Homo sapiens: one gene and its partners. The protein of the gene in region 2 interacts with the protein of the main gene of each other region in a biochemical or structural test. Each region holds a gene or a part of one and is shown on either strand. Other genes may lie near its edges.

The links.
Region 1: the proteins of PTPRD (region 2) and DDX54 form a complex in vitro, tested with the Homo sapiens proteins (one study listed by BioGRID and IntAct).
Region 3: the proteins of PTPRD (region 2) and BMX form a complex in vitro, tested with the Homo sapiens proteins (one study listed by BioGRID and IntAct).
Region 4: the proteins of PTPRD (region 2) and CSNK1E form a complex in vitro, tested with the Homo sapiens proteins (one study listed by BioGRID and IntAct).

What each region holds. Positions count from the first base shown.
Region 1 is NC_000012.12:113,168,064-113,175,757, reverse strand, and holds part of DDX54 (ATP-dependent RNA helicase DDX54), read left to right. Parts: intron 1-600; coding exon 601-722; intron 723-821; coding exon 822-883; intron 884-986; coding exon 987-1,118; intron 1,119-3,194; coding exon 3,195-3,405; intron 3,406-5,853; coding exon 5,854-5,988; intron 5,989-7,694.
Region 2 is NC_000009.12:8,313,541-8,321,234, reverse strand, and holds the end of PTPRD (receptor-type tyrosine-protein phosphatase delta isoform 1 precursor), read left to right. Parts: intron 1-1,268; coding exon 1,269-1,404; intron 1,405-3,292; coding exon 3,293-3,361; 3' UTR 3,362-6,989; downstream 6,990-7,694.
Region 3 is NC_000023.11:15,517,113-15,524,806, reverse strand, and holds part of BMX (cytoplasmic tyrosine-protein kinase BMX), read right to left. Parts: intron 6,879-7,694; coding exon 6,814-6,878; intron 6,611-6,813; exon of another isoform or gene 5,880-6,610; coding exon of another isoform or gene 5,828-5,879; intron 2,462-5,827; coding exon 2,220-2,461; intron 1-2,219. UniProt on the Homo sapiens protein: Non-receptor tyrosine kinase that plays central but diverse modulatory roles in various signaling processes involved in the regulation of actin reorganization, cell migration, cell proliferation and survival, cell adhesion, and apoptosis.
Region 4 is NC_000022.11:38,314,329-38,322,030, reverse strand, and holds the start of CSNK1E (casein kinase I), read left to right. Parts: upstream 1-4,597; 5' UTR 4,598-4,871; intron 4,872-7,702.

The DNA of each region.
Region 1 (7,694 bases), on a different chromosome or scaffold from region 2:
GAGTTCAGTGGCATGATGTCGGCTCACTGCAAGCTCCGCCTCCTGGGTTCACGCCATTCTCTTGCCTCAGCCTCTCGAGTAGCTGGGACTACAGGCGCCCGCCACCACGCCCGGCTAATTTTTTTGTATTTTTAATAGAGACGGGGTTTCACTGTGTTAGCCAGGATGGTCTCGATCTCCTGACCTCATGATCCGCCCGCCTTGGCCTCCCAAAGTGCTTGGGATTACAGGCCTGAGCCACTGCGCCCGGCCCCAGCTAATTTTTTATTTTTGTAGAGATGGGATCTCGCCTAGGGTGTTCTTGAACTCCTCCTGCCTTGGCCTCTCAAAGTGCTGGGATTACAGGTGTGAGCCTCTGCAGCCAGCCTGGGCTGCTGTCATTTATTTCAGCATGAGTTTGTAAGAACATGACCAAGACAGATTCCAGATTTCAAGGTTATTGTTGTTTAGGATGAAGTCACGTGATAAGTGTGAGTGGGCTGAGTTAGAGTGAGGCAAGCCCTGGGACACTGCAGAAGTTGTGGGGACAAGGATGGCTGCGGTTGGAACTCCAGGGAGTGAAGGCCCCCTCTGACCCAGTCCTGCCCTCTACCCTTCCAGGCTTTTTGAAATGGGTTTCGCAGAGCAGCTGCAGGAGATCATCGCCCGCCTCCCCGGGGGCCACCAGACGGTGCTGTTCTCCGCCACGCTGCCCAAACTGCTGGTGGAATTTGCCCGGGCTGGTGCGTGAGCTGGGGGTGGAGATGGGGGCTGGGGGTCAGGCTGGGGCCTGGGGGCCAGTCCCTCTGCGACTCCCCCACTTTCCCCCATGTCTCCTGCAGGCCTCACGGAGCCCGTGCTCATCCGGCTTGACGTGGATACCAAGCTCAACGAGCAGCTGAAGGTGAGGCTGCACCTGTCCCATCCCAGGAGGTTGTGTCCAGGTGGGCCCTGCAGGCCCTGGGCCAGGACCCCGTAAGCCAACACGTGATGCCCTCTCCCCACAGACCTCCTTCTTCCTCGTGCGGGAGGACACCAAGGCTGCCGTGCTGCTCCACCTGCTGCACAACGTGGTGCGGCCCCAGGACCAGACCGTGGTGTTTGTGGCCACGAAGCACCACGCCGAGTACCTCACTGAGGTGAGCAGGGTCCTGAGTGGGAGGAGCACCTCCTTCAGCTGGAGTTTGGAGCTGCAGTTCCCTGTGCAGTCACTAGAGGGCAGCACGAGAGCGGACCAGGAGCCTGGGCCTGGGCTCAAGATGGTCATTTTTATTTTTATTTTTTATTTTTTTGAGACGGAGCCTCGCTCTGCCATCCAGGCTAGAGTGCAGTGGCACAATCGTGGCTCACTGCAGCCTTGACCTTCCAGGCTCAAACAATTCTCCCGCCTCAGCCTCCCGAGTACTTGGGACTTCTGGCGCATGTCACCATGCCCAACTAACTTGTTACTTATTTTTATATTTTGTAAAGACAGGTTCTCACTCGGTTGCCCAAGCTGGTCTTGAACTCCTGGGCTCAGGTGATCCTCCCACCTTGGCCTCCCATAGTACTGGGATTATAGTACTGGGATTATGAAAACATTTCTTTTTTTTTTTTTTTGGAAATGGTATCTCACTCTGTCGCCCAGGCTGGAGTGCAGTGGCACGATCTCAGCTCACTGCAACCTCCACCTCCCAGGTTCAAGTGATTCTCCTGCCTCATCCTCCTGAGTAGCTGAGACTTCAGGCGCCACCATGCCTGTCTAATTTTTGTATTTCTCATGGAGACGGGGTTTTGCCGTGTTGGCCAGGTGGGTCTTGAACTCCTGACCTCAAATGATCTGCCCGTCTCAGCCTCCTAAAGTGCTGGGATTACAGGTGTAAGCCACAGCGCCTGGCCTAAACTTTTTATTGTGAGAAAATTTCAAACCAATTCTAAGATCAGAAAATAATATGATGAACCCCGGGTACTCGTTATCTAGGTACAACTGTTACCAGCTGATAGCTGGTCTTGACCTTCATCCGTTAGTTCCCCTTACATCCGGGTTATTTTGAAGCCTGTCCCTGCCATCCTGTTATTTTCCTGTAGATTTTTAGTATGTGGTTTGTTTGACTTCTTAAGATTGAGGCATGACCTGCATGTAGCAAGCTGTGTGAAGCGCTGTTAGCATGTGTGAGTGGCTCAAAGATTTTTTTCATATGTGTTATGCCTGTGTGACCCCCGCCTGGGTCAAAGCCTGGGGAGTCGCTGTGCCCCAGAAGGCAGTGGGGCCCCTTTCCGTTGGTGCCTGCCTCCCTGTCAGCTACACCTGGGTCTGTTATCTGAGGACATGGTTCACTGGGTTTCACTTACTCCACACACAGTTAACAACACTCCCTCTGTGCAGCTGCTGGGGTCACCAGTGAATAAGACCAAAATAGTAATTTTTAAACAGTTGTTTTTTTAGAGAGAGTTTTGCTCCTTTGGCCAGGCTGGAGTGCAATGGCATGATCATGGCTTACTGCAACCTCTGCCTCCTGGGCTCAAGTGATCCACCCACCTCAGCCTCCGAAGTACCTGGGACTGTAGGCACAAGTCATGCCTGACCATGCCAGCTCATTTTTTATTTATTTTAATTTTTTTTGTAGAGATGGTGTCTTGCTGTGTTACCCAGGCTAGTCTCGAGTTTCTGGTCTCAAGTGATTTTCCAGCCTTGGTTTCCCGAAATGCTGGATTACAGGCGTGAGCCACCATGCCCAGTTTAAATAGTAATCTGTAAAGAACAGCTAGCACTCTCATGAGTGTTCCATGTTGAGACTCTGTTCTCAGCACTGTATATACTGACTCATGTGATCCTCATAATAAGGCACAAAGAAGGGGCAGTTATTCGTACAGATGAGGAAAATGAGGCATAGAAAAGTTTGGTAACTTGCCCAAGGTCACACAGCTTGTTTGTAGCAGAATCCGGATAAGGCTTGTGCACTGAGGTGGCATTTGCAGCTTCCCTGAGAGGGCCCTCTGCACACATCATCTCTGATCCTCAGACAACCCTGCAGAGAGGTGGGAGGTGTTGTAAGCTCCATTCCTCCCCAAACTGGCATCACCCAGCAAGCTGGGATTCAGACCAAGGGTGCCAGACTCCAGAACCCGTGGTCTTGTCTCTGCACCTCAGTGCCCGTCCCCCGCCATGGTCTGGCTTCCTTTCCTTTCTCCTCCAAGTCTCCTTCTCACTTTGCTACCATCTTTGCTCTGAGCAGCTGCTGACGACCCAGCGGGTGAGCTGCGCCCACATCTACAGTGCCCTAGACCCGACAGCCCGCAAGATCAATCTCGCCAAATTCACGCTTGGCAAGTGCTCCACTCTCATTGTGACTGACCTGGCCGCCCGAGGCCTGGACATCCCGCTGCTGGACAATGTCATCAACTACAGCTTCCCCGCCAAGGGCAAACTCTTCCTGCACCGCGTGGGTAAGCAGCCCGTGGCTGGCCCTGGGGCAGGCAGGGGTGCCGGATCCTGGCAGAAGCCGAGGGTACAAGGCTTAACTCTTGACACTGCACATGGGGTGGCTGTGGGCCTTGTTTTAGAGACAGAGCCTCGCTATATTGCTTAAGCTGGTCTCAAACTCGCGATCGTGCCACTGCGATCCAGCCTGGGTGACGGAGCAAGATCTTGTCTCAAAAAAACCAAAAAAAAAAAACAACCCAATTATTCAGCTTATGGTTTTTTTGACTTTACAATAGCACCCATACAGCTGTTCTATTTTTTTCTTTCAGTACAGTATTCAATAAGTTACATGAGATACTCAACACTTTATTTTAAAATCGGCTATGTGTGGGATGATTTTGCCCAAGGGTAGGCTAATGGAAGTATTTGGAGCATGCTCAAGGCAGGCTGGCTGAGCTGCGATGTTTAGTGGGTTAGGTGCCGTGCGTGTGTTTTTGACGGCTATTGGGTTTATTGAGACGCAGCCCTTCGTAAGTCACGGAACAGCTGTGGTCTCATTTCAGAGATCACTGTCCCCCATTGCTCTCTGATGACATGGCCGTCATTTTGGTGTGTGTCCATTCTTCTGATGTTTCTATTTTAAGTTGTGGTAAAGTAGACATAGCATGCAATTCAGCATTTTGCCATTTCCCAGTGTGCAGTGGAGTGGCATTGAGTCTGTTCCCATTGTGCAACTGTCACCACCATCTGTCCCCAAAACTTTTTTTTTTTTTTTTGAGAGTCTTGCTTTGTACCCCAGGCTGGAGTGCAGGGGTGTGATCTCGGCTCACTGCAACCTTCACCTCCCAGGTTCTAGCTATTCTCTTGCATCAGCCTCCCGAGTAGCTGGGATTACAGGTGCTCGCCACCAGGCCCAGCTAATTTTTTGTGTTTTTAGTAGAGACAGGGGTTTCACCATGTTGGCCAAGGTGGTCTTGAACTCCTAACCTCAAGTGATGCATCTGCCTCAGCCTCCCAAAGTGCTGTGATTACAGGCGTGAGCCACCATGCTTGGCCCCAGAACTTTTCCATCTTGCAAAATTGAAGCTCTATCCGTCAGACAAAATCTCCTTATTCCCCTCCCGCAGCCCCTGGTAACTGTTATTCTACTTTCTTTGCCTTCTTTTAATTCATAAGTGTCATGTGGTGGGTGCACTTCCCCCTTGTTGCTGTCTGCTGTCCCCTAGTTTCTGTTGCTGTGTGGAGAGCTGGTTCTGCATGTCCCTAGGGAGGTCCCCAGGACGCCCCCAAAGGGAATTTCTTGTGCCTCACAAGACCAACAGTGCCGGTCAGACAACCTCAAATGAAATCTCCAAATGTCATAACACCTTGTTTTCCCAAGATACAGAGACAAACCAAAATATAATGCTATGTAGTGATTTAGGTACTTCATGCAAAATTGCAATCATATTGGGTGTTCTTTTTTATAACTGGCTTTTTGTTTTTTTCTTTTTACATCACCATACATCACGAATGTTTTTCGTTTACTATGAAATGTCATTCTGTGATGGGTTGGCACATCTTTTCTGTAAGGGGCTAGACATGAAACGTTAGGCTTTGTGGACCATACTGTCTCTGTCATAACTGTTCATCTCTGCTGCTGTCGTGTGACTGCTGCCTATTCATTTATATAGATAATATATAAACAAATGAGTGTGGCTGTGTTCCAATAAATCTTTATTTACACAGACAAGCAGGGGGCCGGGATCTCACTCTGTTGCTTGGGCTCTAGTGCTGTGGCATGATCATAGCTCACTGTAAGCTTGAACTCCCAGATTCAAGCAATCCTCCCAGCTCAGCCTCCCAAGTACTTAGGGCTACAGGCACACACCATCACATCTGGCTAATTTTCGTTTTTTGTAGACATGGGGTCTTGCTATTTTGCCCAGGCTGTTCTCGAACTCCTGGCCTCAAGTGATTCTCCCACCTCAGCCCCTCAAAGTGCTGTGATTACAGGCGTGAGCCACCAGCCTGGCCCTGTAGGCTGCAGTTTGCCCACTCTTTTCCTGAGCTGTTTAATTCCCACTGTGTGGCCATCAGCTAATTCACTTATCTAGTCCTCTACCCTTGAGACTTTAGTTTCCAACTTGGGGCTGTCCTAGTCAGGGCCACACTAAACCTCCTTGTGTGTGAATCTTTACATCTTTGCGGGGAATTCTCAAAAGTGGGGACACTGAAGAGTTTTGATCATGCTCATGAGCAGGGCCTTGCTGTATTTTTGCTAGTCTCCCAGAGCACTGTGTCAGCTTGGGCACACTCTCACAGATCAACCTAGGGACCGGGATTAAACTTCCCTGTGCGTAGGTGGGGACAGCAGCCGTGTGAGGTTCGAGGCTTGGCCAGGCTCACCTGCTCAGGGTCTGGCCTGTGGAACTCATGCTGGGTCCGGGTCCTTCTTTGCTTAATTAAGCTTGAACGTCTCCTTGCTGCAGGCCGTGTGGCTCGGGCTGGCCGAAGTGGCACAGCCTACTCCTTGGTGGCCCCTGATGAAATCCCCTACCTGCTGGATCTGCACCTGTTCCTGGGCCGCTCCCTCACCCTCGCCCGACCCCTCAAGGAGCCCTCAGGTGAGTGGAGGCTGGGTGGGGATAGGGGTCCCCGTGGAGTTCATGGGCCCTGTTTTGGCTGTGGGAGGAGGTAGGGCTGGGTTTGACCCCAGCAGAAGATGATTCCTTTTATTTATTTTATTGTATTTTATTTGTTTTGTTTATTTTTTGAGACAGAGCCTCGCTCTGTTGCCCAGGCTGGGGTGCAGTGGTGTGATCTTGGCTCACAGCAACCTCTGCCTCCCAGGTTCAAGCCATTCTCTTGCCTCAGCCTCCCGAGTAGCTGGGACTATAGATGCCCGCCACCACGCCTGGCAAATTTTTTATTGTATTTTTAGTAGAGACAAGGTTTCACCATGTTGGCCAGGCTGATCTCGAACTCCTGACCTCAAGTGATTCGCCCACCTCCCAAAGTGCTGGGATTACAGGTGTGAGTCACTGCGCCCGGCTGATTCCTTCTATTTTTTAACGAGACGGGGTCTTACTCTTGCTCAGGCTGGAGTGCAGTGGTGCGATCATGGCTCGCTGCAACTTCCAACTCCTGGGCTCAAGCAAGCCACTATGCCTGGCTAATCCCTCTATTTTAAACTCAGGATTTCCCACAACAATCCAGATTTCTGGTATCTACTGGGAAACAGTTGGATCTGGGTGCTAAGCTGTGGCACCCCCATTAGACAGGCTTCCTGGTCCCCTGCAGCCCCTGCCTGCCTCCCCTTCCTGTCAGTGTGGCCTGCCCAGCCCCTGCAGGCATCTAGTGTGTGACCCTATACTTGATGAGTTTTCAGGGGAGCGCAGCGGAGGGAAAGAGAGGCTGAGGCTCATTCAGACCAAGCCCACAGGACATTTTTAATTTATTTATTGAGACAGAGTTTCGCTCTTGTTGCCCAGGCTGGAGTGCAGTGGTGCAATCTTGGCTCACCACAACCTCCGCATCCTGGGTTCAAGCGATTCTCCTGCCTCAGCCTCCCGAGTAGCTGGGACTGCAGGCACACACAACCACGCCCAGCTAATTTTGTATTTTTAGTAGAGACAGGGTTTCACCATGTTGGCCACGCTGGTCTTGAACTTCTGATCTCAGGTGATCTGCCCGCCTCGGCCTCCCAAAGTGCTGGAATTACAGGCGTGAGCCACTGTGCCCAGCCGCCCACAGGACATTTCTGTATACATCCTAGAATGGGAATGCATGGGACAGACAATAGCAATCACCATGGCCTCCATCTGTGGGCCTCCAACTATGGGCCTCCACCTGCAGTCCTGCTGGTTCCCGGGCCCTGGACACATCTTGTCTCATTTGTCCATCTGTGCTAGAGGGAGGGCTGTCATCACCTCTGCTTCACAGATGAGAGAACGGCTCTGACAGGCCTACCCGCATGCACACAGCAGGGAGGTGGGGAGCTGAGATTCAGGCCCCCCCAGAGGCCCAAGACTCAAGCTCAGAGAGCTGAGGCGGCTTCCTCCGGACAGCCTAGCCAGTGGTCAGCAGAGAGCGCAGCCCTCAGAGCTCCGGGCCCCCTCTGCCTCGGCTGTTCACTCTTGGCTGCCAGTGGTGGTCTCTGTCCAGGCCACGGCCCCCTCAGGTGACCATGTGGCCCTGCAGTGTCCCAGCCCATGCCTGGAGGCGGCTGGAAAGCAGACACCATAGCAGAAAGTCTGGGGTCAGATGCAAGGGCACAGGAAAGGGCTGCGGGGCCTGGCCGGGGTGGGGGGCGGCCTGTGCAGTCACTGGA
Region 2 (7,694 bases):
GGAGTACCTAGATCATTCAACAAAAAGATAATAAATCTCAGTTTCTCACAACTAAGAGAGACTTTCAAGGTTAAAAGGGACCTTCAAGGTCATCTGCTTCATCTTAACAGAAGGTTTCACTGCCGCTAGACATCTTCAATCACTTCTTAAAGACTGACTCCGCTTGGATTTTCAAACCTCACTTAACATTTCTGTTTAGACTGTAGAAACCCCATTTATAAAGGGACACACTATTTATATATGCCTGTCAGCTACACCCTCCAGTAAATGAATCCATCTATTTTCTACAGCCCGTGCCCAAGTGTTACACATGCTGTTTAATTAGGATCCAAAAATGCAGGGATTTTTCAGATTATTCACTGTTTCCCTCATTATCTGAACTTCCCATTGCTTTCCTCCTTAAGTGCACAAGAGCTATGAATTAATTTTCTTTCTTGCTACCGTGAAGATTCTGGAGTTATCTTAAAACAATGAAGACAACAGAGAGAAACTCAAAACCTTTCTAATGTGGTTTTAGTTGCTGATCATGTAAAAATGGTAGCTAAGTTCAGAGATCAATGGCTCTTAACCATTTTTTTTTAAGATTAGAGACCCCTGTGAGAATCTGTTGAAAGTTCTAAGTCTCAAGAAATAAGAAAACAACATAGTATTTACTTCATGTGTACGTACACTTACAGGATAGTCATAAACCCTCCTGAAGACTAAGTGAAAATCACGTATATACCCTGTTATACCATCTCTTTTCTCATAATAAAACCAGTGTAAACATTTGACTAGTTATAGGCAAATACATTTAGGTTATGGGCATCGCATATGTATTTTAAGTAACTGCAAAATGTGAACAGTGTGATAGAAAAGTTGAAGATGCCAAATTCACTTCACCTTATTCTGAATTATTTCATACTTTAAAAATATTAAGTAGGCAGGTTGTAAATTTCAGAATCTCCATGAATATTATAAACCTATATGTTATTTACCCTTTCTTTTCATTTGTTATGTTTCCTTGGTCTTTCTAAAATGGTATAAATCCCCATTGAAAAGACCTTTTATTAGACTTACTCCTAATTACTTCATCCTCATTATCACATGCTGTTACAACTCAGTATCCCAAGAGTAATCATTTGATGAATGTGATACCATGTTTTCCTGAATATGGCTATAAAGAGATACGGAGTGTGGAAGCTGGTAGAAGTATGTCCACACCCAAGCAAATGTGGCCAAGACTGTGAACATCTCACCCAGTAACATCGCCTTTGTTATTGTGGCAGCGCGGGCGTTGGAAGAACTGGAGTCTTCATAACGCTAAGCATTGTTTTGGAAAGAATGAGATATGAAGGAGTTGTAGATATCTTCCAGACTGTCAAAATGTTAAGAACACAACGACCAGCTATGGTACAGACAGAGGTGAGAAAATCCATTGCATTTTTCGCATCTCAAGAGCCTACGTTTTGCTAGCCTGGACCTCCCGGACTCCATACTCTCTCAACACCAGACACAAAATACTGTGGGGAAAGCATCAAACTGTTTAATAATTTTGAACCTCATTTTCCCCCTTTTTAAATGGGATGAGATTATTAGTGTCTTAGTGTTGCTATAGAAATTATGTGAGATTATATGTTAGATTGAGCTATGTTAAATTTTACTACTGGACCATTTTTGACCAATAAAATGGCAATTTCATAAAATTCGTTATATTCATAGTCCTATAATATAAATATATAAATATATAGAAAGCATAATATTTAGTACATAATATAATCTCAGCCCATTTAACTTCTCCATTCTCCCTCTGTATGCCTACAGAGGTATCAGCTCTTCTATATTTCATGTCTTAACAATGGCCATTCAAAACATTTTGATTCTGGATAAGCCTAGAGATATTAATATTAGCCCCTCATTTCCTATTCCAATAATTAATATGGAAATTTGGATATTTCTCGTAATAATAAGAGTTTATGATATAGCCAGTCTGGTCTATTGAGCATTCATTTCTAAAGATAATATTACTGATAGAGTTTATGTTCTGCAAAAGGCCACCAAATTATACAACTTATATGTGTTCCTCAATTCATCATCCACAGTATCTTTCAGACGGATTTCAAAGTAGTGCAAGTGTTTGGCTTGCAATAGTCAAAACATTATGCCAGCTTGACAAACTTAATGGGTCTTAGGGGTTACAGAGGGAAATTGGACATTTAAAAAGCCTTAACACTCAGCCAAGCAACTTACTGTGACAAGATAGGAAAGTAAACACCATTTATTTTGCATTACCAACCATTTTTATTACAGAAAAATGCACATTTAAGCAAAATAGAAACTATCTGTCTACTTTCAGCCCGATTGGCCACTGAAAATAGGTTTCTTTTATGGGGAAAATCCTTTTCCTCATCCCTATAGAGAGCTGTAAATTGTGATTTTTCCATCTCTCCAACAATGCTTCAATTTATTCCAATATGATAGTGTTCTTCGTTGTCTGAAAAAGGCCATGCTTCATACTGCTTTTTTTTAGTGTGTGCCTCTCTAAAACAGACAACTAGCAATCACACAGAATTGGGCTGAATTTACAGGTATTTTTTGATGTGGGCAGCCAGTCCTGTGAAGCCATTTTCAGGGATGGAAAGCTTGGAAGTCCAGTGCCCTGTGTAAATGGATTTGTGTGCCTGGTGTGCCGCACCAGCTACCTTCTGGCTGTATATGAACATCATATGTAAGTGAGAGAGACAGCCAAAGGGTAGCTGAAATGACTGTGAGTGATTCTCACTGCAAGCTCTACTGTCCAAACATAATTTTTTAAAAATTCAAATTCTGTTGGCAGTAGTTCAGAAGATAAGTAAATTCAGATTTTTCTCAGGACAGTTTGTGTCTGTATCAGCCTCTCTTAAATATTTAAACTGAGAATTAGTTATCTTGAATAAGCAGATAATTGTAAAGGATGATTTTCATCATTATCTGCTTATAAGGCATGTAAGAAGTTTATGTGTTCAATTGGTGGTAATGGTTTGATACTACTTGGAAAACACTTGTCTGGGAAGGTAATGTTCACTCGACCTGCCACTGCTTGGAATTGGGAGATCGTTTTAGTCAAATTGATTGGCAAAGTTAATCAACACCCCATGTGGCTTTTTCTTTGTTCACTATAAACAATTGGTCATTGGATTAGACCAGTTGACGAAAGTAGTGATTTTGCCCCTATATAGATGTTATTTTGTTATGCAATATTGATTTTTATTTTTCTATTAAAATATGCTCATGGTCCCTTCTTTTGCTTCTCCCCATTCATTGTCTCCTGCAGGATCAATATCAGTTTTCCTATCGTGCCGCACTAGAGTACCTGGGCAGCTTTGACCACTATGCAACGTAGAAACCCCTGACCCATTCTGGATTTTTACTACAGGCCCTTCAATATCCATGGAGTCTCTTCTGAGCCATACAGGGCACTTGAGAAGTCCTTCTTAACTTCTAGCTAACAACTACTTAGTGGGACTATTACACACAAAACAAATTAAAAACAAATTATTCCAGGTGGACCAAGAATTCACAGTTTAATAATCTAACCTGAAAAATAATGAAGAGAATCCTGACTGATGAGGCATCTGAAGGATTTTATTTACAGATACCTCAAGGATTCAAAATCAAGGGAAGAAGAAATCACAGCAAAGAACCACCATCTTATTCAGGATTGCTTGAAAGGTGCAAGGAGAAATTGCCAGAATGCTGCAGTTCAGCACAAGATATGTGCTGGTGTGGCTTCTCACAATGAAACGGACTCTGCTTTGACATCGCCCCTTCCCACCATACTGCTCATAATAACATTTTAGGGGGAAAGGGGAGGGAATGTTTAAAAAGAAAGTCCTTGATTTAGTTTTTTAGTATTGTAAAGATACTGCTGACCTGTGCTTCATTTCTAACTGTGTAAACTTTTTTTTAACAAAATGTATCATTCGATAAAGTGAATTTTAAAAAAGTTACATAACTCTTCATTTTTTTATTTCCAAATCGTAGGTTTTTTTAAGCTGTAGAACTGTTATCTGTAATATCTTGCTGTAGAAATATCAAATCATTTGAAAATTTGCACATTTTTGTGCAAAACTCAATCTACAGTATCAGTCTCGTCAGATATATTAATTTTACACTTCAGTTTTGATTGGTGAGAAAGTACCCATTCTCTTCAAATAATCAAAGATAATTATTATTTTGTTTTGTTTTTGGAATCAACAGGGAGGCGCAAAGTATAAAGTTGCTGCTAACATATATACATATATATCCATATTTTATAAGGGTGTCTATGTATATATAGACAGTGTGTCCACACAAAAAATAGATACAGTTATCAGTCAGTCAGTTCTTCCATGATTTAGTTTTTTTAAACGTAGAAAAGCTATTGTAAACATCTCTTTCCATTTATTCTTAATTTTTTGACATATTGGTATTTCTTTAAAGGGAAATGAGGAATGCACATCAGTGATTGATTGTCAAACCTCACCCCCTGATTTCCTACCTAATCTACCCCCACCTAACCAATCAATCACATCCACAAATTGTTTTGTTTGTTTGTTAGTCAGGCTTCCAACAAAGTTCAATATTTCTAACACTCTAGTGCAATAAAAATTATTATTAAATAGCTAAGAGGTGTGCATGTGGGAAAGGTCAGTGCATATCCCTTTAGGAGGGGAGAATGTTGTAATATATCAGCTATCGAGTTGTTTAAAAAAAGTGTATTCAATCGTATATTGTCTATAGTATGTGCTATGAAATTTGCATTTATGATATGTAACAGGGGCAAAGCCAAATTCATGTTACTCTGTTCAGTCAGAAACATTTTGTGGCATACAGCATTCCTGGGAAGTGCTGTACTTTGTTTCGTTTTGGTTTTAGTTTTGCATTTAGAGTGCCTTATAATTGATGCCTATTTTAATAGCATTTCTTTTTAGCTTTTGGTTCGTATTTCCATTCACTGTTCGTATCTGTTACTTTCTATTAAAGCATTATCTGTTTACCACATGTACAAAAACTCTTTGAATAATATGCATTCCTAGTTTTCAGCCAAGTCGGGGATGTTAGTGATTGTACCAGCCCAAAGCACTTGGATAATCAGGGCCCTTCTTCCTTTTATAATCAATCATCAACATCAGAAAAAGCTACTTGTTTTATTTATATTCCCTTCCAAATCCGCTCTGGAACATGCAGTAACTGCACCAAACTTATTTTAGTAACAAATATCATTGGCAACTTTGGAATATATTTGATATTCCATTAGGATTTTTCTAAAAGGGGAAATAAACTATATATATATATGTATCTTACCCCCAATTCTTCCAACAGAATTTCTATAGGAAGCCATGGATGATGGCATAAGTTTGCCACATATTACATGATTTTAAATAATCCTCAAAATACCCAAGGAACTCTTAAAGAGTTTTGGTATGAGTATACTACTTTGGTTTAATTTTAGCTTCATGGATGTTCTGCATGGAAGGATTTTTGTTTTCCACATTTTCCCATTGCTAGCAGAGTGAAATCCAAGAGACCAAACATTTGCAAGCATTGTATTTGAGCACTTTTGTAAAAAACAAAGAAAAAGAAAAAAAAGAAAATATATATAATACTAAAAAAAAGTATCTAGAAGGCTACCTCAGAATGAGACTCTCTAACCTACATCAGAACCAGAGAAGAATGTGCACTATGTGGGTCTGTTATCATTATTTTCTTTTAGTTTGTATCTTTTTGGAGATTTATCCAAGTGCCAGATTACTCAGTGCTATAATTTTCTTTTAGTTAAACAAAGGGGGTCAGACAGACATTGCATCATCCAGACATGCCTTGTTGGACATGTAGAATCCGATGGAGCACTGCACACCAGAATGATTGGCCAATGAGCAGCTTCTCTCCCTGAAACAATAACTGCCCATTTGGCAAAGGGAAAGATGACAATAATCAGAAGAAGAAAATGAATGGGATGCATACCATAGACGAACGAGGCGGAGACTATTGCGGGAATCTTACTGTTCAGGAGCTGTTCCTAGAACTAACTCCCTTACTGTCATTGATGTGCATTCCACTCTGTGCTTTTCTGTACAACCATTCAAGTTTTAATTTCCCAGGTGAACCATCTTTATCTGCCATTACCACAAGCTTTCAAGTTTCCAGTTATTTTCATCATCATAACCAGTACGGTGCTATTATTTACCTATGTACGTGTAGTTATGTATAATTTTGTAATTAGTTACAATGGTAAAAAAAATCAAAATATATAAAAAGTGATTTGTACAGAACTTTATTTTAGCTCTTTTTTAAAAATGATTTGCATGGTTAGAAAACGGCGAGGACAGCCAGGGGAGGGAAGGGCCTCTAGGGAACTTTGCACTTTCTATACCTTTGTACTATGCACTGCCCTATTGATTCTACACCCAATAATGATATTACTTGAACCCATCTGTAAGAAACTGCTTCGGAAATTCATTTGTGTGTATGTAAATAACACAACATAGAAACAGGAAGGGAAAAAAGTCTGCAGTAATGCACGTATTTTTTTTCTTTCCTGTTTATTTTCGGTTTTGCTTTAAGTCCTTTTATTTTTAATTCCCTTTTTGTTTTTCTTTTTGGGTTTTGGTTCCTTTTGGGTTTATGGGTGCCCTGATACTCCAGCAGAGATCAGAAGGCTACAGATCCATTCTATCCATCCGTTATGTGGCTTTGCCATCCCAGCTTGGAGTGTCTTTACAAAGATAATAACAGTTGTGTTCTTTGCTCTCGTTTTGGATGCATAGACTGAAAAATTAAAACAAATAACTTGTAAAATGGCTTGTTAAAAAATACAATTACCTCTAATTAGTAGTACGCGTAAATGTTTTACAGAATGAAAGGCGTGCTTTTTATTTTCTTACTTCGTTACATTGGTGGCGAAAGAAGTCTGTATGAAAATCAGTTCTTTGCTGACACAAGTTCCATTTGTTACAAATGAATTCTAATAAAAATGTCAGTGTTATGCAGCCCTGGCCTTTGCTTTTGTCCATGCAAACACTTTGGTTTTGAACTGACTATTTGTTCTCTCTTCTCTTCTGGTTATCTAGTTAGTTCCTTGTACTAGTAAGAATTCTGTTTACCGAGAGACTACTGTTTACAAATATCTACCTTGAGGTAAGCACTTTTCACTGGTAAGCAAACAGAGACTCAGAGAAATAGTTTTTCCAAGTTCACAGAACAAAGAGGCATTGCTTTCATTCATATCAGAGATCACAGGCAATCTTTGATTCTGTGGAAGATTACTATATAGAAATTTAAGTGCACAACTGTATATATACATCTATATGTATGTATGTATTTTCATCTCGAAACAACTTTCATGCACATAAAAATAGCTCCATAGTGTTAATTTATTCATACCTTTGGGAACATGGCTAAGAAAATACTTGGTTTGCGTTATTTATTCAGTAATTCAATATGATCAAGTACCAATAATGGGTCAGAATTGTTCTAGGTATTGGAAATGCAGCTCTGAACAAATGAGATACTGCTGCTGTTTGCATACAGACTACAGTCTACTGAGAGAGGTTGGCACTGAAGTAATAGTAACATCACATGGGACCAGTGCTATGAAGGAAAGTGTAGGATCCTTGAAGTTAGGACTTTCAATTGTGAGTGACAGAAAGTCTGACTCAAATTGGTCTACAGGAAAAGAAAGGCGTTTACTGACT
Region 3 (7,694 bases), on a different chromosome or scaffold from region 2:
ATTTGGGGTATTAAGCAGAGCATGAAGAAGTGCCTACCTCTCAAAGTCTAAAGGCTGTTTTATCTGGAATGTGGAACCTATTTCCTGTTTGCCTTCATAGTCCAGACTTTTTTCAAAACCACAGTTCATAGAAACAAGTTTCCTTAGCAAGGAAATGCTCCCCTGGCTCTATTTCAAGGAATGCCTAGATAAAGCCCTTAAACTCTAAAATGCCTCTCTCTCCACCTTCCCAAAGAGCCTTGCCCACTAGAATAGCTTTTATTTAGCCTTGTTGTTTCTAAAAACACTTAGAGAATGTCCATCAATAGTGCATCACTTAGGTTTACCTAGTATCTATACAACTGGTACTTACAGACATTAAAAATAATCAGGCAATTTGCACAACAATGTAAATGTACTTAACACTACTGAACTGTATGCTCAAAAATAATTAAGATGGTAAACTTTATGTTATGTATATTTCACCAAAATTAAATGAAAATGAAATTTTAAAAGTCAGGTGTATCCTCATGTATTCAAATAGGAAAAATGCTGAAGATGTCAAGTGAAAAGAACAAATGACAAAGACTGTATCGTGAGAACTTACTTGCTTTTGTATGCACATGGCCACATGTGCATAGAAAACATTTTAGGGGAATGTAAATGGAATATTCTGTAATATTTGAATGATTTAATGGGGGCATAGATTATCTTACTAAACAGAAAGTAGATTAAAAAGAAGCTCAGGGAAGATTGTAAGAATGACAGAAAGTTGATAAAAAGTATTATCCCATATATGAGATAAGAATCATGGCTGCACTTTAAAAAGTCAAGCTCCATGAAGACCTTTTAGCAATTATTATAATTTACTTGCAGATGCAATGCTGCTCATGCTAAGAGGTGATCAATCAATCCTTTGTTAAAATAACTAGCTTCCTGAAGTTCTAGGGAAAATCCACAGTTGGGACTAAACCTAAGGAGGTGCAAATCTAAAGGAGTGTCAAAAACTCAATAATGGCAGCAACCCCATGTGAATCGACAGTTCCTCCTGGTTATTTGAAAACAGGGCAGTCAGCTTCACCTCACACCTCTCTCAATGAATCACTGGAGTTTCTGTCAGGAAGGGGACCTGGAACACAATTAACATGACTTTCACTCTCCTTGCAACTGGGTTTACTGATCCTCTCCTTCCACAAGAATGGTGGGCTGCAGGCGCACAAATGTAACCCCATACCTTGGGCACCAGGTATAGATTAATACACTAGGATTCTAGCTCCACTTTGGAATGAAAGGGACCATGGCTTATTATACTGAAAAAAAATCAAGAAGAACACACTTACATTATTTCAAATTCCATATGGCCCTGTATTATTGAAACTTTCAGTAATTGGCTTTAGGCAAAAATGATGAAGATGGAAAGAACAAAGGAATAAAAGGACATGGGAAAAATAACTAAGAAAAGAGATACATGGTGAGTCAGAGAGATGCTCTGTATCCATTGTGGGGAAAGGCAGACATGACTTCCCTGCAGGGATGCTGATAACTGAGTGAGAAGATGGCAGAGAGTAGACAACATGATAGGAAGGAGGTCTGAGACAGGAAATAAGGAAGGGGAGTCACTTGACCCTTTCCATATGGTCATCTTGCAATTCAATTCAACATTTATTGGGCATCAAGTGTAGGGCAAATTCAGTGCCATACCAAGAGATACATACATACACAATTTACATGTTGCCTTCAAGGAATTTTCAATTCTGGCTTTAGATAGAATCTTTAGGCTAAAAACTGTGAGAAGACTAATCAGGTCAGGAGAGGTGAGGTTGTACATTCCAAGAAGGCAAGCCATGGCCTTGCTTGAAATGCTATTTGCCATTTGGCTAGTGATACTGAAGCACATTACAAAAGTAAGCCCATCCTAAGCTCTTTCATATAAAGGATAGATTTTTAAAGATTCTGTATTCTGGAATGTGGAGATATTTGGGGGGAGAAGGAGGAGAAAGGGAAGGGAATACAATGATCAGGCATTACTGAGATCATTAGATTGGATAATCTAAATGGAAAATCTATGCTTCTCAGCCCCAGTGGGGCCACTGCTTCCCCAGACTTCTGGCTCAAGCACTGAACATTTTCTGAGAGGACAGCCTAAGACCTGGATCAACAGCTTTGAGGCTGAGGTCCAGGGCAGCCGGGGTAGTGTTTACTCTACATGCTGGGCAGCCCGTCTGAAAGCTGGGGATTACCTTTTCAGTTTTCTTACTTGCCACCAGTCAGGGAAGTCTTCCCTTGGAATATACTGCATGTTGAAGTTTGGCTGGGAGCCATAGATTTTCTTTGAGTTGCTGTCATATTGCGCTAGACTGGTACTTGAAGATGGTGGCTGGGAGCCATAGTTTTTCTTTGATTCGTTGTCATATTGGGCTAGAGTGGTACTTGAAGATGGTGCATCCATTTTGAGAACAGGAACTGCCCGAGGTATCTTCAGCTTTGGAGGGGAAGAAATTTTAATACATCACAGTGAGGCACAGATTCAGGTACCGGGAACTGACAATTAAGTATATCAGCTCTTGAAAGAGAGAGAAAGGAAGGAGAGAAGGGAGGGAGGAAGGGAGGGAGGAAGGGAGGAAGGAAAGAGGCAAGGAAAGAAGAAAGGTATGAGCAAGGATATGGAGCAACTGGAACTCATATTTTGCTGGTTGGAGTATGAAGTGGTACAACAACATTGGAAATTTGTTTGCAGAATCTAGTAAATCTGGATGTGCATCTGGTCATACCCTATGACTCATAAATTTTACGTATATATACACAACAGGGAAACCAAAAGACCTGTAAAAGAATGTTCATAGCAGAATTATTTTAATTAGATAAAAACTAGAAACTGCCTACATGCCCATCAAGAGGATAAAATAATAAACATGTTGTGGTTGTTGAAGGCTGAAAAATGGTCTCCCGAATATGTTCATGTCCTAATTCCCAGAACCTGTGAATACCTTACGTGGTAAAAGAGACTTTGCAGATTGTAATTAAGGATTTCGAGATGGGGCAACTATTCTGGATTTTGTGGGGGTGGGCCTGATGTAATCAAAATGGCCTTTATAAAAGGGAGATAAGGTGGTCAGAGATTAGAGAGCTGTGAGGATGGAAGCAGAGGTTAGAGAGTAGAGGTCCTGCAACCTTCTGGTTCTGCAGACAGGGGAAGGAGCCAGGAACCAATAAATGTAAGTACCCCTTAGGAACTGGAAAATGCAAGGAAACAGAATCTTCCCTAAAGCTTCCAGAGGAAACACAGCTGTGCAGACCCATTTTAGACATATGATCTTCCAAACTATAAGAGAATAAATGTATGTTGCTTTAAGCCACTAAATTTGTGTAGTAATTTGTTAGAACAGTAATAAGAAACCAAAACAGTTGTATATTCACACAACTGAATTCTATACAATGATGACGGTAAATATAATCACATACTAAAAAAATAAGCGAATCTCACAAATTGAAGAAAAGAAGACACACAATAAATGACTACACACTTTATAATTCCAGTCATATAAAAGTCAAAATCAGGCAAACAATCTATGATGTTATAAATCAGGTTAGCAACTACTTTTGGAGGGTAGTAGTGACTGAAAGGGAACATCAGGGTGTCCCTGGGGTTCTGTGATGTTGTGTTTCTTTATCTGAGGGTGGATTATACAGAATTGTTCAGTTTGTGAAAATTCATCAAGCTGAACACTTAGGATTTGTGTGCTTTTCTATGTTAATGTTATATTTCAGTTAAAAATTCACAATATGTGTGTGTGTGTCTGTGTGTGCGTGTGTGACAGAAAGAGATGCATTTAATATTTTTTTCATGCTATATTTTAGTTTTTCAGAAATTTCATTTACTTGGAGTTAAGGCTTTGACATTCTGGAAATTTTAATTATGCAGGACAGTGTTATTTATGAGCTGTGAAGTGGGTTATGTCCAAAGAAAAATGCACTAGGAAGTTCCTTAAATGGAAATCATTTAAGGAAATCTCTTTGAACAGAACAACTAGAGAGCTGATTTTTATTTCCTCCATTCAGAAAATAAGCCCTCTACTGAATACTCTGATAAAAAACAAAACAAAGAAAAACATACTTTACATGATACCCTCTGATCCCTGGTTCATTTGGGAAGCTTATAATCAAAACAGGCTTATGAACCCTTAGCCACTGATTTGCCTAGCTGATAATTTTCAATATATTGGCCAAAAAGTTCCCTGCTGGAGACTAGATGCAATGGTTTCTGGCTCTTAATTATCTTCTGCTCTTAGACTTGTCAAAACAAACTTTATTGGTAGTTCATCCTTTTTAAAGTGCAGAATTCAGTGACTTTTGTAAATTTATCAACTTGTATAACTATCACCACAGCCCAGTCTTCCCATCACTCCAATAAGATCCTTCATACCTATTTGCAGTCAATTCTCATCCCTACTCTGGTCCCAGGCAACCACTGATCACCCTTTGTTTCTATAGATTTGCCTAATCTGGGCGTTTCTCCTAGGTGTTTTAGAGGGCCATACTTTTCAAGCTTCAGGACTGAAACATATTTTCAAACCCAAACAGCAATGTTGCTAATAACAAAGTAAAACTCCTAACGATTATAATTGTTTCCTAGGGCTACCATGACAAATTGCTACAAGTTTGGTGGATTAGAACCACAAAAATTTATTGTTTCACAGTTCTAGAGGCTAGAAGTCAAAATCAACATTTCAGCATTGCCATACTTATTCTGAAGCCTCTAGGATAAAATCTTTCCTTGCCTCTTCCAGCTTCTGGTGGTTCCAAGTTGCTATGGTTTGGATATTCGACCCCTCCAAATTTTATGTTGATGTGTGATCTCCAGTGTTGGAGGTAGAGCTTAATGGGAGGTATTTGGGTCATAGGGGCGAATCCCTCATTAATGGCCTAGTGCCATTCTCATGGTAGTGAATGAGTTCTCACTCTATGATTTCCCATGAGAGCTGGTTGTTGAAAAGAGCCTGCTATCTCCCTTCCCTCTCTCTTGTTTCTTCTCTCTCACCATACAATTTCTGCACACACTAGCTCCCCTTCCCTTCTGCCATGAGTGGAAGCAGCCTAAGGCCCTCATCAGATGCCGATGCCAGTGCTATGCTACTTGTACAGCCTGCAGAACGGTGAGCTAAATAAACCTCTTTTCTTTATCAATTACCCAGCCTCAGGTATTCCTTAGTAGAGCACAAATGGACTAAGAAACAGGTGTTCCTTGGCCTGTGGTAACATAACTCCAATCTCTTCCTAGGTCTTCACATGGCCTTCTCCTCTGTGTATCTCTCTGTGTCCTCTCATCTTACTAGTCATTGGATTTATGGCCCACTCTCATCTTTCGTGTGATTTCATCTTGATCTTTAACTAATTACATCTGCAAAGATCCTAGTTCCAATAAGGTCACATTCTGAGGTTCTACATGGATATGAAATTTGGGGGACATTATTCAGTCTACTACAATAATGGATTATTTTTGTCTTTCATGTTGATTCATGAAAATTATGTGGCTTTTACTTAGAAAGAGAGAAGTGTGTGCGAATGTGTGTAGCTGAAAATAAGTACCCAAGACACCATAGATCCAATAGATGGGCGGAGATGTCCCCTTGCTTTCAGGTGAACTTCCAGAGAACCAATGGGAAGCCATTTTTTGTGTATCCTGGCATTTGAGGAGGCTCACACCTGCCTGGGAACCCTAAAAACAGAAGGCTGTGGCTATGAACCCAAGAGAGTAGAGCAAAAAGACAGCAGTAGCCTGTACTTCGAGAGAGAGCTACATACAGCTTAATTAACCAGAGCAATCAAGGTTTTGTTTGTTTTCTTATAGGCCAACTCCACTCTTGGGAAAAAGTTGGCTGACAGCCATCTTGAAAGATTGAGGGCTGAAAATCCAAGAACTGAGGATCAAGATCTCTCCCCTGTCATAAAACTACATATGGATCTGCCCTTCAGTAGGAAATTCCTAAAAGTCTCCCATGAGATAAAGAATCAGTGCTGGAAAACTCACTCCGATACCACCACCACCAAATCATGATAGAAACAGCTATGTGTGTCTTTTTTTAATTAGACCTCATCTTCCTTGGAACTAACTCTGAAAGGGCCATGAATCTCAGCCCCCCCAAAATCCCTCCCCAAAAGCATGCTGCCAGGTGATGCAGGCCCAAGCTAGGTGACAGATGTTTAACTTGGAATGATGTTTGCAGTCATGTGATAATAACATTGGATGGAACAATTCAGAGGCTGTTCTTATGATTACAAGTAATGGGGACATTTTTATCATTTGAGAATGACTGCAAAACTATGGAATTTGGCAAAGACTTTATTTGGAAGCAGGGAAGAAAGCCCACTGAATAGCTTTGAAGGGATAATGGAGGGAAAGAATTATGTTGTTTTCTGCTTTTGTCCTATAGAGTTTCATTTCAACACCAGGATACTTCCACAAAGCAGTCTTGGCCATGTTGATGGTAAGGAAAGAATGACAGCTAATAACAGCTGCCTGTTATGTGTGATGCCATCTTAAGGACATCTCCCGCATGCACCCATTTTTTCTTTTTTTTTTTTTGGTGACTATTTATGGGCTTACTGGCTAGGAAAAGACACAACAATGAAATGCAAAAATATGAGATATTACAATGGTTCTATATTTGAATCCGCTATTCAATACCACCCATAGCTATTATCTAGAGCTCATGGTTTTTCTCTCTTTGCTGAGAAGTCTAAATGAATTCCACATTTTCTAGTCTTGAATCTGGCAACTCTTGGTTTATTTAATATATCCTGACCATGAAAAACATTTTTAAAATGTTGACTTACCACTCTGTCTGGGAAGGTGGGAACTCTGTGTTTCTCTTCATTGACTGCAGTATGCAGATTAGCATCTGAACATTAAAACAAAGTAATATCAGAAGGAACTTTAAACAAAACAAAGAGAAACACTCAATGTTATGAATTAAAAGAATGAACCAGCTTGTGTGAGCAATACTCCAGATTAAGTGAATCCAGACACAACATCTGGAGTGATTCTGTAGCTTTCCTATATAAGGCCCAACTCCTATGTAGGCCATGTATCCTGGAAAGAGGATGGATCAAGGCATCTTGGACAAAAAGAAATAAAGACACCTAACTTTTTCTCTTTTAGTTGTTATGCCCATGGACTTCCCAGTAGCTCAGCAGAAGAAGCCAAGGGAATAAATTATACTTGGACAGATAGACAGTATTACAGCTGCTCAGGAGCTGCAACACCTCTACACTCTGTAGTTTTCCTCAGAGGCACAGCACCTGTGGCACCCAGAACACATGGTGAGTGTCATCCAGACAGAGCCTAGGAAGGCAATCCCAAGGCAGTGCTCTCTCTGGCCTTTTTCCTGCTCCTTCCAGAAAGTTAGGGCATTGTCAAAGCTGGAATCTGACCTGCTAGGTAATGATAATAGACCAAATAGACCATAGACAAAACCACTGGGGAAAATGATTAATACCATAAGGAGACATTACTCCTCAGTCCCTTACAGTGGAGCGAAGACCCATGTGCAACCAATCTGTATAGTTCATTAAATAACTATAATTCATGAGTATATAGAGCAATGTGATCTAGTTGAGATTAATAAATATTCACTGTATAGTCTAATTAAGATGGAAAACACAATGAATATTTATTAATTGATTTTTTGGGGGTAAAATGACCAGTATTAACATTA
Region 4 (7,702 bases), on a different chromosome or scaffold from region 2:
TGGCCTTTATTATTATTATTTTTAAATTATTTATTTATTTTTATTTTTTGAGACACGGTCTCACTCTTTTTTTTTTTTTTTTGAGACAAGGTCTCACTCTGCTGTCCAGGCTGGAGTGCAGTGGTATGATCAAGGGTCACTGCAGTCTCAACCTCCTTGGGCTCCGGTGATTCTCCCACCTCAACCTCCCAAGTAGCTGGGACTACAGGCATGCACCACCACACCCAGCCACCATGCTCAGCTAATTTTTGTATTTTTTGTAGAGAGAGCATTTCGCCATGTTATCCAGGCTGGTCTCAAACTCCTGAGCTCAAGCAACGCCTGCCTCTGCCTCCCAAAGTTCTGGGATTACAGGTGTGAGGCACCGCCTGTGGCCCAGCGCCAGGATTTTAAATTGGGAGACTGGGCCCAGACGTGGTGGCTCACACCTGTAATCCCAGCTTTTTGGGAGGCTGAGGCGGACGGATCACCTGAGGTCAGGAGTTTAAGACCAGCCTGGGTAACATGGTGACACCTCCATCTCTACTAAAAATACAAAAATTAGCCAGGTATGGTGGTGGACGCCTGTAATCCCAGCTACTCTGGAGGCTGAGGCAGGAGAATTGCTTGAACCCGGGAGGCGGAGGTTGCAGTGAGCCGAGATCGGGCCACTGCATTCCAGCCTGGGAGACAGAGCCAGACTCTGTCTCAAAAAATAAATAAATAAATAAACTGGGAGACCAGGAGGGCCTACCTCTGAAGGGGACTTGAGAAAGGTGAGAGGTGAGGGGGGTTGGTGCTCTGCGGGAAGAGCGCACCAGGCAGTGGAAACAGCCCCTGCCAAGGCCCTGAGGCCAGAGGTTCATTCCATGGGAGGCCAGTGAGGCTACAGGGCTGTGAGCAAGAAGAAAACTTACAGGAGCTGAGGTCAGGAGAGCCAGGTGCGGGGAGTGGAGGACAGATCCTGGAGGGCCGTTTTCAGGCCAGCCCTTGATGTTTAGTAAATCTATGAGTCCTTAGTCAAGACTGAGATTCCTGGGGCAGGTACTGAAATCTTTCTGGGTTTATCTGCAGCCATATCGTCATTATCTGGGAATTCCAGGGCTGTCCTTGGGATCCCAGCCCAGTGCTCCTGCGTGCCAAGTGATCTTGAAGGGTCTGAAATAGGGAGCAGGTAAAAAATGTCAGTTTGGGAACACAGTGGCTCACACTTGTAATCACAGCACTTTGGGAGGGCGAGGCAGAAGGGTCACTTGAGCCCAGGAGTTTCAGACCAGTCTGGGCAACACAGTAAGACCCCATCTCTATAAAAAATTTAAAAATTAGCTGGGTGTGGTGGTGCATGCCTGTAGTCCCAGCTACTTGGAAGGCTGAGGCAGGAGGATCGCTTGAGCCCAGGAATTTGAGGCTACAGCGAGGTATGATCCTGCCACTGCACTCCAGCCTGGGTGACAGAATGAGCCTCTAAAAAAAAGACAAAAGCCAGTTTGGAAAGGTGTTGTGAGAGCCACTATTCCTGAACCAATGCAGAGCAGCTGAAACCCAGGGTGGGCCCCTTGGGAGCTGGCAATTCACCCCACACCTATTCTAGCCTGATTTCATCTTCTTGTTGGCTTGCAGAGAAGGTAGCTAGGGGAACTTTGCCACACCCTTGGGTTTTTTGTTTTGTTTTGTTTTTTATTTATTTTTTTGAGACGGAGTCTCGCTCTGTCGCCCAAGCTAGAGTGCAATGGTACGATCTCGGCTCACTGCAACCTCCGCCTCCTGGGTTCAAGTGATTCTCCTGCCTCAGCCTCCCGAGTGGCTGGGATTACAGGTGCCCGCCATCGTGCCCAGCTAATTTTTTGTATTTTTAGTAGAAACGGGGTTTCACCGTGTTGGCCAGGCTGGTCTTGAACTCCTGACCTCAGGTGATCACCCGCCTTGGCCTCTGAAGTGCTGGGATTACAGGGGCGTGCCCGGCCCCACCGTTGGGTTTTAAAGTTAGGAGTTAAATCTGAGAGGAATCACTGTGAACCAAGTCGGAGAGAGAAGTCAGGCTGTGGGGCTGCTGGAACACGTAAGGTTTTGTTTTTCACTTTGGACCAGTCTCCCCTCCTCAGCTGGGTTTTGTGTCATGGTTTGCCTTCCCTTATAGCTTCACTGCAAAGCTCTTTGGAAGGGCCCACACACAGGTCTTCCAGGGATAGGAAGGACAAGGACTTGGGCCCACAACTCAGGCAGTGGACAACAGCATGTCCTTCCAATGGCAAGGCAGGGAGGCTCCCTAGCAGGCCTGGGGATGAGCCGGGCTCCTCAGCCTGGCTGGCCCAGGGAACTGAGCAGGATCTTAACTGGGGCAGGGGGTGGGGTGGGGGTGCTGGGGTGGGAGGTGTGGTTACAAGTCCTGAATGCAGAGGGGAGAACGTGAACGTGCTGCAGTCAGACCTGGCGATCTGGCTGGGTTAGGAAGGGGCAGGGGGTCTGTTCCAGCCAGGCCCAGTTTAAGGGAGAGGTTGATCTGTGCCCTTAGGCAAGCACTGGGAGGAGCCTGATTCCTTCTCTGAAAGAATACAGTGTAATCTGTTGTTGTTTGAGAGGATTAAATGAGATAACAAATAACCTCCTCTCCCAGGGCTGGTTGCCTTGAAAGTGCTGAAGAAGAGGAGGGCTTTGGGAAGCAGGGCCCAGGTTGGAAGGTTAGGGGTGGTAAGGACTGGAGGACACAGGGGCAGACTTCACCCCCTGCTCAATTGTGCCCAGGCCTCTCTGCCTGGGCTCATGTGAGGAAAGAAACAAAATGGGTGGCGGTGGGGTGGCGCTCAGGCCGGCTGAGAACTTGGGCCCAGAGTTACCGGATCTCCTAATGCCCCCAGAGAAACAGGGAATCTGGATCTGAAATATGAAATCTTCCAGTTTTAAAACTTTGGGGAGTGGCCAGGCATGGTGGCTCACGCCTATAATCCCAGCAGTTTGGGAGGCCGAGGCAGGCGGATCACTTGAGGTCAGGAGTTCCAGCCCAGCCTGGCCAACCCCGTCTCTACTAAAAATACTGTGTGGTCCTGGGCAAAAATTAGCCAGGTGTGGTGGTGCACATCTGTAATTCCAGCTATTCAGGAGGGAGGCTGAGGCTGGAGAATCACTTGAACCCAGGAGGCAGAGGTTGCAGTGAGCCGATATTGAGCCACTGCACTCCAGCCTGAGCCACACAGCGAGACTCTATCTCAAAACCAACAAAAACAAAAAGCAAAAAAAAAAAAAAAAACTTTGGGGATTAATTAACAAAACAACAACAGAAAGCACCGCGCAGGCCAAGTAAAGCCCACCACCTGGCTGGTGACCCCCTGCTCTGGCAAAGGTGTCACTGAAGGCAGGCCCTCCTGGGAGGAGGCTTCTCACTCTCCTGCTCTTGGAAATGGGCTCTAGATAGACCCAGTTTCCTGGTGATCGCTGGGAGAACAGAGCTGTCCTGTTGGGCTTTGTGGTCCTGGGCAAAGCCCTTCCCCTCTCTGGGCCAGTTTCCTGGCCGGCGAAAGGACTTAGTCTGTGGGGCTCCTGCCCGTTTGGACACGTGTGTGACTCAGTCCCTCAGCCTCGAGGAGGGAAGATACGGCTATTATAGAAGTGACTCCTCCCAGGAACTGTGCTTCCGGGATTGGACGCAGGGCCTCAGGCATTTTGCGTGTCCACAGTCACAACTGTGTGAATATAGGTGTGTCATAATTGGAAGCTTTGCATGGCTCAGTGTAAATATCATCACTTTAATGACTTTGTTCTGCAACCTTTCATCGCGGCTCTGCATGCCGGTAGAAGCTTTTATTAATTCTGTGACCTGGGGAGGACAGGGTCCTTCCTCCCATTTGCTGTTTAAGGAAACCCAAGCTCAGAGCTGGGAGGTGGCTTGGCTAAACGTGCACCACTCGGAGCCCAGACTCAAGTGTCGGTGCTTTGGTACTTGTGGCACCCCTCCTTCAACAGGGGAGAATGAGGTTGGGATCTGAGGGGTCCTCTCTGTGCCCATCACAGTTTGAGCTTCAGGGAAAAGAAGAAGAGGTCTTTGCCCTTCGTTTTTCCACGGGAGGAGAATGTATGAGCCCAGGCTACCTTTCTGGGCCTTGTGTCGACATCCCTAGCTGTCTCCTCAAATCTCTTGCCCTGAATCAACCTGGCCTGTGTTCTCTGCGGCACTCGGAACCTGGAGGCGGACTGAGCCTCCAGCAGTCTAACATCTTTTGCAGTGTCGTGAATAGCCGCCTGTTTTCGCAGGGGCCCAGTGCTCTGCCTGGAGAGGAGAGAGATCCTGGCAGGCGGGGAGAGGAGACTTTGGGTCTAGACCCTCCCCTCCCATCCCCTCACCTCCGCTTTTTGTGCGCCCTCCTCTTCCCTCTGTCCCCCCCGCACCCCGTCTTTTCCACCTGTGCCCTGGACTGCATTAGGGTGTCAGTATCTGTGTGCTCCCCCACCCCCACGCGTAAGCCCGCGCGCCTGCACTGAGGCTGGGGAACTGCGTCTCGCAGCTGCGGCCCCCAGCGCGGAGGGCGCGGGCCCTTTAAATCCTCCGGGGCGGCGGCGGCGGGCCGGGGATGACATCAGCGGGCGGGCCCGGGGCTCAATGGGAGCCGGCGGGCGCGCGCGGTGCGAGAGCGCGCGAGCCGGCGGCGGGGGCGGGCGGGCGGGCAGGAGGCCGGGAGGAGGGAGGCGGCGGCGGCGGCGGCGGCGGCGGCGAGAGCCCAGAGCCAGAGCCCGGCCGGGGCCGAGCGGAGCGCGGCGGCGGCGGCGGCGGCGGCGGCTGGGCCGGGAGAGGCTGGCGCGCCGGGCGGCTCCGCGAATCCTCCGGCATCCGCCCCGGCGGGCCGCCCCCGCCCGCGGCAGCCCCCCGAGCAGTGGCCCGGCATCGGCGCCTTCCCGGCGGGGTAAATATCGGGGGGCCGCGGGCCCGCGGAAGGGTGCAAACCTGGGGGGAATCGGGCTCCCTCAGCCTCTTTGTTTTTGCTGGAGAGGGAGGGAAGGGAGGGCAGACACACGCGCGTTCGCGCTGGGGTGTAGGGGGGGCAGCCCGGGCGCCGCCCGCTCGGCCCGGCGAGGACAAAGGCGCGGCTGGGGACGAGGAGGAGGGGGCCTGTTATTTTGCAGGCTCGCGGGGGAGGCCCCCCGGCCGGCCTGCCTCCGCTTCCCCCCGCTGGGCCCTCCGAGGCCCCGGCCGGCCAGGCGGCCACCCCGGCTGTGATTTGGGGACGCTGAGGGAGGGGGCTTGGGGTGCTGGGCGCCGGATACTGTTGATTCGGGCCCGCGTAGCGTTTCATCGGACAATCACCGGCGCCCCCTGCTCTCCCGGCCCCGGCGCCCGGACCTGGGGGTTCGCAAGGCTGCGCCCGCTCGTTGGATGACGGGCGTTTGGGGGTCCTAAGGTGAAGAGGTGTGTGGTCACCAGGCCACTGATTTGTTTTTCTTTGTGGAGAGAAAGAAAGGGGTGGGGGTTATTTGTCGGATCGGATTCTCCCATTTTTGTGTGAGAGATTGATGTCTTGCAAGTCTCTAAGGAACGCAAAACAGTGTCTGGGTGTCGTTAGAGGATTCCCAAGCTCTTGTTAATACCCTAACTCGAAGTGGGGTGAGCCCCCTCCCCAACTTTTCCCTTAGTTTTCTTGCATATTTTCTTCCTGGCATAGCCTCCTTCCTGGAGAAGGATTTGGAGAGAGGAGAAGGGGACACAAGTGTCTCAAGTTGCTTCCAAGCAATGCCTGTGTTTGGGTCTCCTTTGCCTTCGTTTCTATGATGTCCCTTCAATTTTTATTTTAATCGTCCGAGGGACAAGGGCCCCGGCTCAGGGGTAGGCGATGGTGTTCGGGGAGTAAGAAGCACTGCCCGTGTGCCATGCTGGTTGGTAGTTTGTCTAATTTTTTTAACCTGCTGAAACTCTTGAACCTTTATATCCACTTTTCCCCCCACTTTGTTTATCTCCCCCCCTCCCCCATGGGAGAAGCAGCAAAAGAACTGAAAAGCCTCTCCATTCCTGAATGAAGCTTTTCTGCTCTCCTCTGGGAGGCTTTTTGGGTATTGGTGCCGGGACAGTCTAGGCTCCCCCAGGGACCTTGGACCCCTGGGGTGTTGGGGAGCGACTGGGGGTCTGGGTGGCTGGCACATAGCAGTCAGGGGGTCCTGAAGGGCTTGCCCCTTCCCGCTCTCGTTCTCTGCAGACAGCCGGTGAGTGGGGAGAGACTGGGGGGTCATGTGCAGTATATTTATGTAAGACACCCAGACAGAGGGCACGGGTATTTATATAACCCGGCGTGGGTATTTATGTAATATAGGATGCGGGTATATTTATGTTCCTTTCCTAACCTGCGGGTTTCCTGGCTGCCATGTGTGGTCTCTGAATTGGTGTTGGCAGAAAGTGGACTGAGGTGTTGGGGGGGGGTTGCGTGCACACCCCCCCTTACCCCCCAACAGGGCTCACTGTGTGTGCCTGCTTTTCTTTCTTCCGTTGGAGTGTACACACTCGGGAAGCTGGACGTGTGTGTACGTGGGATGTGTGGCGTGTGGGTTTCCTGCAAACGTGGACTGTGTTCCCCTGGCAGCGTGGCACCTCAGCTGAGACAGGCCAAGCATATGGGCAGCGGCCCTTGATTGAGAGCCCAGAGTTTGGCCAGCTCTGGTGGAGGTCCCTGCCTCGTGGTTATTGGTGGAGGGCTGGTGAGCTCCTTGGGAGCCAGGTGCCGGGGTTCCCTGTCTCTCCTGGGATCTGCCCACTGTCCCTGGAATCCATCTCCCTCCCAGGCTGGCCTGGTTGTTGGGGGCAGCACTTGGCACGGGCAAGGGGCTGATCTTCTGTGCCAGCACAGCTGCTCTGCAGTCTTCCTGTTTTGCCCTGTTTGTGAGTGTGGGAGACCACCAGGTGGGACAGCCGGAGCCCTGTCCTCGGCGAGGCTGTACCATCTGCAGGGTGGTGTGGGACAGGTGGCATGGCCTCTGTGAGCCTGAGTACCCTGTCTGTGAAAGGAGTTCCCTCTTGCTAGTCCTTGATGCTGGTCCTCTTGTAAACACCCCTCCCCCTGTTTACTGCAGTCCCTGGTCCCTGTCCCCACGGCAGCACTGCCTCCAGGCCTTCAGTTTCCTCCTCTGCTGACCAGGAACAGGGTGTCCGGACTTTTGCCCCAGGCCAGAGCAGAGGGGTCCCTCCTCTGCCCCAGGCCAGAGCAGAGGGCTCCCCCCTGGCCCTGAGGAAGGAGAGAAGCTGCTCACATCAGAACTCCTCCTCCCACCCATCCGGGGCAGGCGGCTAAAACCCTGGCTCAGTCCCCTTTGTTGTTCTATGAGGGCCCTCTTAGGAGACCCTCCTAGTCTTAAAGGACGCCAGCTCCAAACAGTTTATCCAAGCGGCTATGGGCCTCCGTGTGAGGTCTTGGTGTCATGACGTAGAGATGGGGAGGTGGCTGGAAGGTGGATGGTCGAGGGCATTCTTTTCTGCCTTCCCCCCAGTAGGGGATGCGACTTTCTCCTGCAAGGCGTGCTGGGCACTGGCGAGGTCTGGCCTCTGGGCAGGGGCAGTACTTGGGAAGACCAGGCCAGGCTGTGGGAGCCTGGGGGGTAGGAGGTGTAAGAGGGCTGATGCCCGTTGTGATCCCTTGAGAAGCTTCTTTTGAGGGGCCCCTGAATGAGCATCCCCCAAAGACATGCTTGCTTGGCTGCTTCCTCTCTGGCCACACTGAAACCTGTCCTCAGCCTGCCTTAGCTGTTCCCCAGG